2 linked regions of the Homo sapiens genome follow. The protein of the gene in region 1 interacts with the protein of each later gene in a pairwise test. Each region holds a gene or a part of one and is shown in the gene's direction. Other genes may lie near its edges.

What was found. The genes of interacting proteins can lie anywhere in the genome.
Region 2: the proteins of PEX1 (region 1) and EPS8L1 interact in binary tests that used the Homo sapiens proteins (3 or more experiments, as listed by UniProt).

The regions. Positions count from the first base shown.
Region 1 is NC_000007.14:92,518,521-92,522,020, reverse strand, and holds part of PEX1 (peroxisomal ATPase PEX1), read left to right. Parts: intron 1-2,942; coding exon 2,943-3,026; exon of another isoform or gene 3,027-3,061; intron 3,062-3,500. UniProt on the Homo sapiens protein: Component of the PEX1-PEX6 AAA ATPase complex, a protein dislocase complex that mediates the ATP-dependent extraction of the PEX5 receptor from peroxisomal membranes, an essential step for PEX5 recycling.
Region 2 is NC_000019.10:55,074,411-55,078,668, forward strand, and holds the start of EPS8L1 (epidermal growth factor receptor kinase substrate 8-like protein 1), read left to right. Parts: upstream 1-1,458; 5' UTR 1,459-1,509; exon of another isoform or gene 1,510-1,997; 5' UTR 1,998-2,034; coding exon 2,035-2,051; intron 2,052-3,677; coding exon 3,678-3,718; intron 3,719-4,258. UniProt on the Homo sapiens protein: Stimulates guanine exchange activity of SOS1. May play a role in membrane ruffling and remodeling of the actin cytoskeleton.

The DNA.
Region 1 (3,500 bases):
TGTTAAAGGAGGTGAGATGTCACCTAATTTGTATGCTATTATGTAACTAGTCTAGGATATTGAAGCTGACTATACTCTGTTTTTAGGTCATTATCTTGTAGTTTACCATACTCCCTACTTGCTTCTTATTCTACTATTTAACTCATTTTCCACATCCCCTAATTTTGGTTTCATGAAATTATTTTTCCTTCTGAATTACTAGGTTCTACTTACTATTATTAAACTTTATTTCTGACATATTTTATAACCTTCCATGGTCTCACTTGATTAAAAATAAAAAATTCAGCTGGGTGCGGTGGCTCACACCTATAATCCCAGCACTTTGGGAGGCCAAGGTGGGCGGATAATTTGAGGTCAGGAGTTGGAGACCAGCCTGCCCAACGTGGTGAAACCCCCCCTCTCTACTAAAAATTCAAAAATTAGCTGGGCATGGTGGCAGGTGCCTGTAATCCCAGCTACTCAGGAGGCTGAGGCAGGAGAATTGCTTGAACCTGGGAGGTGGAGGTTGCAGTGAGCTGAGATTGCACTGCTGCACTTCAGCTGGGTGACAAGAGCGAAACAATGTCTTGAAAAAAAATAAAAAATAAAAAATTCTACAACACAGGGTTATTATTTTTCCATTTTTGTTTTCCCTTATGAGTTTAATATGTTTAGATTATAAACCTGAAAGCTTGAATACCTATGTCTATCTTTTGTTTTCTTATGTTTATCAAGTTATTCCTTTAAACATTTTCTAAACTGTAAGAATAATGTGAGGCTGGGCTCAATGGCTTATGCCTGTAATCCCAGTGCTTTGGGAGGCCAAGGTGGGAGGACCACTTGAGGCCACGAGTTCAAGATTAGCCTGGCTAGGCAACATAGCAAGACCCTATCTCTATAAAAAAATTAAAAAAATTAGCTGGGCATGGTAGCAAATGCTTGTAGTCCCAGCTACTCAGCAGACTGAGGTAGGAGGAATGCTTGAGACCAGGAATTTGAGTGACCTATGATTATGCACTCCAGCCCGGGCAATAGCAAGACCCTATCTCTTAAAAGAAGAAGATGTAGTAATAATACATATTCATTATAACTATTTTACCATTGAAAGTAAAAAATGAGTTTTTACCTTTTCCCAGTCCCATCCTCAGAATGGGGATCTCAGTAGACCTTTAGGATTGGAAGAATGAGATCATTCATATTTTCTGCAATTATTACCCCACAAAATATTTCAGATACCTTTCCATGTATTACAAACAATGTGCATTTAACATGTCTCTCTCTTTCTCTCTCTCTCTGTGTGCGTCTTCATGATCCTCTGTTGCAGCCCTGCCAGTAAGACACTATCTCCTGAAGAATCACTGATAGGAACAGAAAGTGGACTGGCTAGGCCAGGAGTCCTTAGCTTCTTAGGGGGCAGGAGCTGCTTTGTGCTTTCTCAGAATCAGATATATATGTGGACTGAAACATTTAAAAACAGAATAGCCAAGGGTGCTATACGTTTAAAACTTATATAGATGGGGCTACATTGCTCTCTATTACTAATTTCCCATGACAATACACGAGAGTGCCATGTCTTTTTAACTTGTTTTGAGCACAGACTAATCTTGTTTATGCATGTTTTTTGATGAGAATAGGCTACTCATGAGAAATCTGTAAACCTAACACTAGTCCCTTGCATACTCTAAATTGTTGCTAGAATCTTAAAATTTTAGCACCAGACGGACCTTAGAAATCATTAACTTTGGTGCTTTGTTCTACAATACAAGGAGATGGAATATTTTACCCAGGATTGCTTAGCAGGTTACAGTTCTGCCCTCTGAGTACCCAGCACTTCCCTGTGGGCAACATCAACTTCCTGATTTTCAAGTCTTAATTAGTACTCTGAAGAATCCTACTTGTTTTTAACTCCCATTTGCTTTGAAGTGACTTTACCTGATTTTTTTAGATCCCTTATTGCAGCAATGCCACTAAGAAACTGAGTCTCTAGCTTCTTGGTGGGCAGGAGCTGCTTTGTGCTTGCTCAGAATCATCCTTTTCAGTAAGGGAGATATTGAAGAGAAATCTACTGAGGAGTCTGGGGGTGAGGCACTCAGGGAAATCCTGCTCCAGTCCACAAAAGCAGAGAGGAAGGGTTGGTTACCTAGAGTATTTAACATGCAGAGGCTTTGGATTTTACTCCTTTAATCCTTGGAAATGCCTATGGAAGGGGAAAGGAAGTAAGATGGTGACTCCAGCTTATAGACATACTAGTGTTACATATATTTAAACTATAATAGGAGGGTATTATTAGTTTTACTTAACTTTCAACTGTGAAGGATTATACTTCTCAATATTTGTCTCCAGTGTCTATTTCAGTGTATTTTTCACTTTTCTTGAAGCAGCATGTCTGTTGCAAAACTTCTAGAAATAATGAGAATATTTATATATTAGATCAAGCCATAACTTGATGATATAGTCATTTCTTCTTATATTTTTTACTTACATTTTTACATTTTAATGATTACTTTCATTTTTGAAAAACATGTCATGCTGAGATGTATTTTTCTTCATTCTGTAATTAGTTATGAAACAGTTTTTCCTAAAATGCTGAGTATATCAAGTCTTGGCTAAGAATAAGTAATAAATATTTGCCACATGAAAGACTACACATATAGCCAGGTGCAGTGGCTTGCACCTGTTTTCCCAGCTACCCAGGAGGCTGAGGCAGGAGGATTGCTTGAGCCCAGGGTTTCCAGGCTGCAGTGAACTATGATTGTACCACTCTACTCCAGAATGGGTGACAGAGCCAGGCCCCATCTCTCAAAACAGAAAAGAAAGATTACATAGACTACATATACACCCCCATCCAAAACATACACACACATCTACTTAACCTAAAATGGTAAGAAGATAACTTCTTATTTTCTAATATATGACACAGAAAAGTTTTTTTAAAGTAGTTTTAAATTTTTAATTTTTTCTAGGTATTTCTCAAGCCATGTTCCCATGTGGTATCTTGTCAACAAGTTGAGGTGGAACCCCTCTCAGCAGATGATTGGGAGATACTGGTAAAGAAAACCAAATAAGAACTATCTCATTTAAGGTTAAATTACTTCACAATATCAATGTCTTTAGCTTTCTCTAAGCTTTATTATATATTCTGAGTTGGTTTTGAATTATAAGAATGAATTGGGGCCAGGCACAGTAGCTCATGCCTATAGTCCCAGCACTTTGGGAGGCCAAGGCAGGTGGATTGCTTGAGTCCAGGAGTTCAAGACCAGGCTGGGCAACATGGTGAAACCCCGTATCTACTAAAAATACAAAAATTAGCCAGGCATGGTAGTGCATGCCATTAGTCCCAGTCACTTGGGAGGCTGAGGCAGGAGAATCGCTTGAGCCCGTAAAGTCAAGGCTGCAGTGAGTCAGGATCTTGCCATTGTACTCCAGTCTGGAAAACAGAGTGAGACCTTGTCTCAAATAAAAAAAGAATGAATTGATAGAGATCTAATGTACAACCTGACAACTATAGGTAATAAAATTGT
Region 2 (4,258 bases), on another chromosome or scaffold:
CAGTGTGCTGACACACAGAAGGAAGAGATGAGATCAGAATCACGTCCCTTAAGGCCTTGCAAGATGTCAGCTTTTTTTTTTTCTTCTTTTTTGAGACAGAGTCTCGCTCTGTCGCCCAGGCTGGAGTGCAATGGCGCAATCTCGGCTCACTGCAAGCTCCGCCTTCCAGGTTCACGCCATTCTCCTGCCTCAGCCTCCCGAGTAGCTGGGACTACAGGTGCCCACCACCACGCCCGGCTAATTGTTTGTATTTTTAGTAGAGACGGGGTTTCACCGTGTTAGCCAGGATGGTCTCGATCTCCTGACCTCGTGTTCCACCCGCCTCGGCCTCCCAAAGTGCTGGGATTACAGGTGTGAGCCACTGCGCCCGGCCTGTTTTCTGTTTTTTGAGATGGAGCCTCGCTCTCTTGCCTAGGCTGGAGTGCAGTGGTGCAATTATCGGCTCGCCGCAACCTCTGCCTCCCGGGTTCAAGTGATTTTCCTGCCTCAGCCTCCTGAGTAGCTGGGATTACAGGCACCCGCCACCACACCTGGATAATTTTTGTGTTTTTAGTACAGATGGGGTTTCACCATGTTGGCTGGGCTGGTCTCGAACTCCTGTCCTCAGGTGATCTGCCTGCCTCGGCCTCCCAAAGTGCTGGGATTAGAGATGTGAGCCACTGTACCCATGCAAGTTTCTTAACCCTTCTCTTCCTCATTTTCTCATCTGTGAGACGAAGACAGCCTCCCACCCAGACACACTCCCCTCACGGGGCTCTGGGGAGAAATGATGTGGAAAGCTTTGCTAGTAACCTCTACAGCATGGAGGGAGTTCTGGAAAAGTGATTTCAGAAAGGTGTTTATGCCTGGAAAGCCTGTTCATTTTTGTGATGTCCTTGGAGCTGGGCCAGGCATTATCGAGCTAAATCTTAGCTTTTGTCAGAATAGGGGGGTCATTGAGGGAAATTTCCAAAGGAAGGTGGAACGGGATGGGTGGGGAGGTAAGGGCATGAGCAGAGGCAGTGATCGTGGGCAGGAGGTGTCCATAGAAGACGGGCTGCCACTGGCCCTGGAGACAGAAGGTCAGCCCCGGGTTCAAATCCCTCCTTAACCAAGTGCTGAAATGGACAAGTTGCTCAACCTCTCTGGCCTTCAGCTTCCTCATCTGTCAAGCAGGAATCAAACCTCGAACTTCCTCCCGCTGTTAGAATTTCAAGGGAGTTTTAAAGACAGAGCTTTCAACTCTGACCTGTGAACAAGTGTGACATCAAATGTACTGTTCGTTGCTATTATTCTGTTGCTACAAGGCAGACAGTTAGTTTCCCAGCTCCCCTGCAGTCCCCCCAGCCCCTCCTAGATCTGTCTGCCAGCCCCGCCCCGGGGTCACTCCAGCCAGGCTGTGCCAGGTGAATGCTCAGGTATGCGGAGGCGGAGGCGGAGGCAGGACGGCCCTGGGAGGGAGCAGGAGGAGGGGCCGGCAGCCTGGAAGGGAAAGGACAGCGGAGAGCAGGGCAGAGCCTGAGCAGGCAGGTAAGGAGATCCGGGTCAGGAGAGAAGGGGGCCGGGGCTTGACCAATGGGTCTGAGGGACGGGGGGACTGGGGTCTGGACTCCAGGGTCTCAGGGAGGACGGGCTGGGGGTCTGAACTCCCGGGTCTGAGGGAGGAGGGCCTGGGGTCCTGGACTCCTAGGTCTGAGGGAGGAGGGGCTGAGGGCCTGGACTCCTGGGTCTGAGGGAGGAGGAGATGGGGCCTGGACTCCTGGGTCTGAGGGAGGAGTGGACTGGGGTCTGGACTCCTGGGTCTGAGGGAGGAGGGGACTGGGGTCTGGACTCCTGGGTCTAGGGAAGAGGGACTGGGGCCTGGACTTCTGGGTCTGAGGGAGGAGGGGCTGGGGGCCTGGACTCCTGGGCCTGAGGGAGGAGGGGCTGGGGCCTGGATGCCTGCATTGAGGGAGGAGGCTGGGGTAGGAATTAGAGGCTCCTACTGGCCAGGCCTTCACATGTTTGCTGGCTCCCAGGGCACCTCCAGGTGGGCAGGAGCTACCACTCAGCACCATGAGCACCGCCACAGGGTAAGCGCCCCCGGACCCCAGGTCCCAGCCCCAGCACGCCTCCCGCCTCCCCTCGCCTCCTCACCCACACCCGCTTGCGGCAGCCCAGACTGTTTGCGGCGGCCCAGACTCTGGCCCAAGCCCCGACACTCAGGAGGAAGCCAGAGCCTCTCTCCTCCCTGCCCAGCCTGGGGTTAGGGGCCCCCACTGCAGAGCAGACAGGCCTGAGCTCCAGTTCGGCCCTCACACTCAGTGCTGATGTAACCCTGGTCAGAGGACATCACCTCCTGGAGCCTCAGCCCCTCCTCTGTGACACAGGGACAATGTTGAAAAATTGGAGGGATAGTGCATTACAGGACTTAGCTGACCACCTCACTGACAGCAGGTGCTCAACTCATAGGAGTCGCTATTGCGATTGTTATGTTGTTAGTAAATATTAACCCTTTGCTAGAAAATCAGGGCTGTTTATAATGAAGACTCAAGTCCCCCAGAGTAAGCAGGGAGAAAAACAATGAGAGATGAGTCAAAATACCTGCATGGTAGGTAGTGAGCTCTCTGGCCCAGAGGTAATCAAATTGTGGTGACATCAGACTGGCAGGAGCAGGATGAGGAACAGGAGTTTGGGAAAAAGGGTTTTTCAGTTCCCCTGACGCCACCTGATCGCTGAGCTTCTGTTATGTGCATGCAAGTGGGGATTCAAGAATTCTTAGGAAAGGTAATCTTAGGAAGAAATTGAGGACGGGAGGAGACAGAGAAGGATGTGGTTGGGAAGCACCTGGCCCATGGGAGTGGGAGGGGAAGCAGATAATTCCCTGTCTACTTCAGATACCACTAATGCTATTATAACCATTCCCATTTATTGAGCAACTTCTGTGTGCTAAGCCCTGGCAGCATCTTAAGAATGATAATAACAGTTATTGAGGCTTCAAAATACTTCACCTGCATCATCTGACTGAATTTGCCCAACAGCCCTACCAGATGGTTACTACGTTACAGAAAGAAAAACTGAGGCAGGAGAGATTAAATCCTCTTCTGAAGGTCTTATGGCAAGGAGGCAGTAGACAGAGGGTTTGAATCCCGGACTATGCCATGGTAGAGATCACACTCCCCTACCACCCAGCACCACCGCCTGACCTGACCTGTCTTTTTTTTTTTTTTTTTTTTTTTGAGATGGAGTCTCACTCTGCTGCCAGGCTGGAGTGCAGTGGCACGATCTGGACTCACTGCAACCTCCGCCTCCCAGGTTCAAGTGATTCTCCTGCCTCAGCCTCCCACGTAGCTGGCACTACAGGCGCCCACCACCACACCCAGCTAATTTTTGTATTTTTAGTAGAGACAGGGTTTCACCATGTTGGCCAAGATGGTCTCAATCTCTTGACTTTGTGATCCGCCCACCTCTGCCTCCCAAAGTGCTGGGATTACAGGCGTGAGCCACCGCGCCCAGCCTACCTGTCTTCTTAAAGTCCAGCTCTGGCTCTGAGCTCTCCTGCTCAATAATAATAATAATAATAATAATAATAATAATAATAATAACCCTTCCATCGCTCCCCATTACCTTCGTCATGAAGCCCTTGCTGCCCTGCTTGGCATTTCCACAGGATCTGCCCCCAGTCCCACAGTCTCTCTCATTCCTCTTTTCTTCACCAGCCCAGAAGCTGCCCCAAAGCCAAGCGCCAAGTCTATCTATGGTGAGCGGGGGGCAAGGGAGCCCCAGGCCCATAGAACTGGGTCTAAAGAAACAGGACCTGGCATCCAGGGTCTTGGAGGAGGAGGGGCTGGGGGTCTGGACTCCTGAGTCAGAGGGAAGAGGTGCTGGGGGTCTGGACTCCTGGGTCAGAGGGAAGAGGGGCTGGGGGGCTGGACTCCTAGGTTTGAGGGAGGAGGGGCTGGGGGCCTGGACTCCTGAGTCAGAGGGAAGAGGTGCTGGGGGCCTGGACTCCTGGGTCAGAGGGAAGAGGGGCTGGGGGGCTGGACTCCTGGGTCAGAGGGAAGAGGGGCTGGGGGGCTGGACTCCTGGGTCAGAGGGAAGAGGGGCTGGGGGGCTGGACTCCTGGGTCAGAGGGAAGAGGGGCTGGGGGGCTGGACTCCTGGGTCAGAGGGAAGAGGGGCTGGGGGGCTGGACTCCTGGGTCAGAGGGAAGAGGGGCTGGGGGTCTGGACTCCTGAGTCAGAGGGAAGAGGGGCTGGGGGGCTGGACTCCTGGGTCAGAGGGAAGAGGGGCTGGGGGCC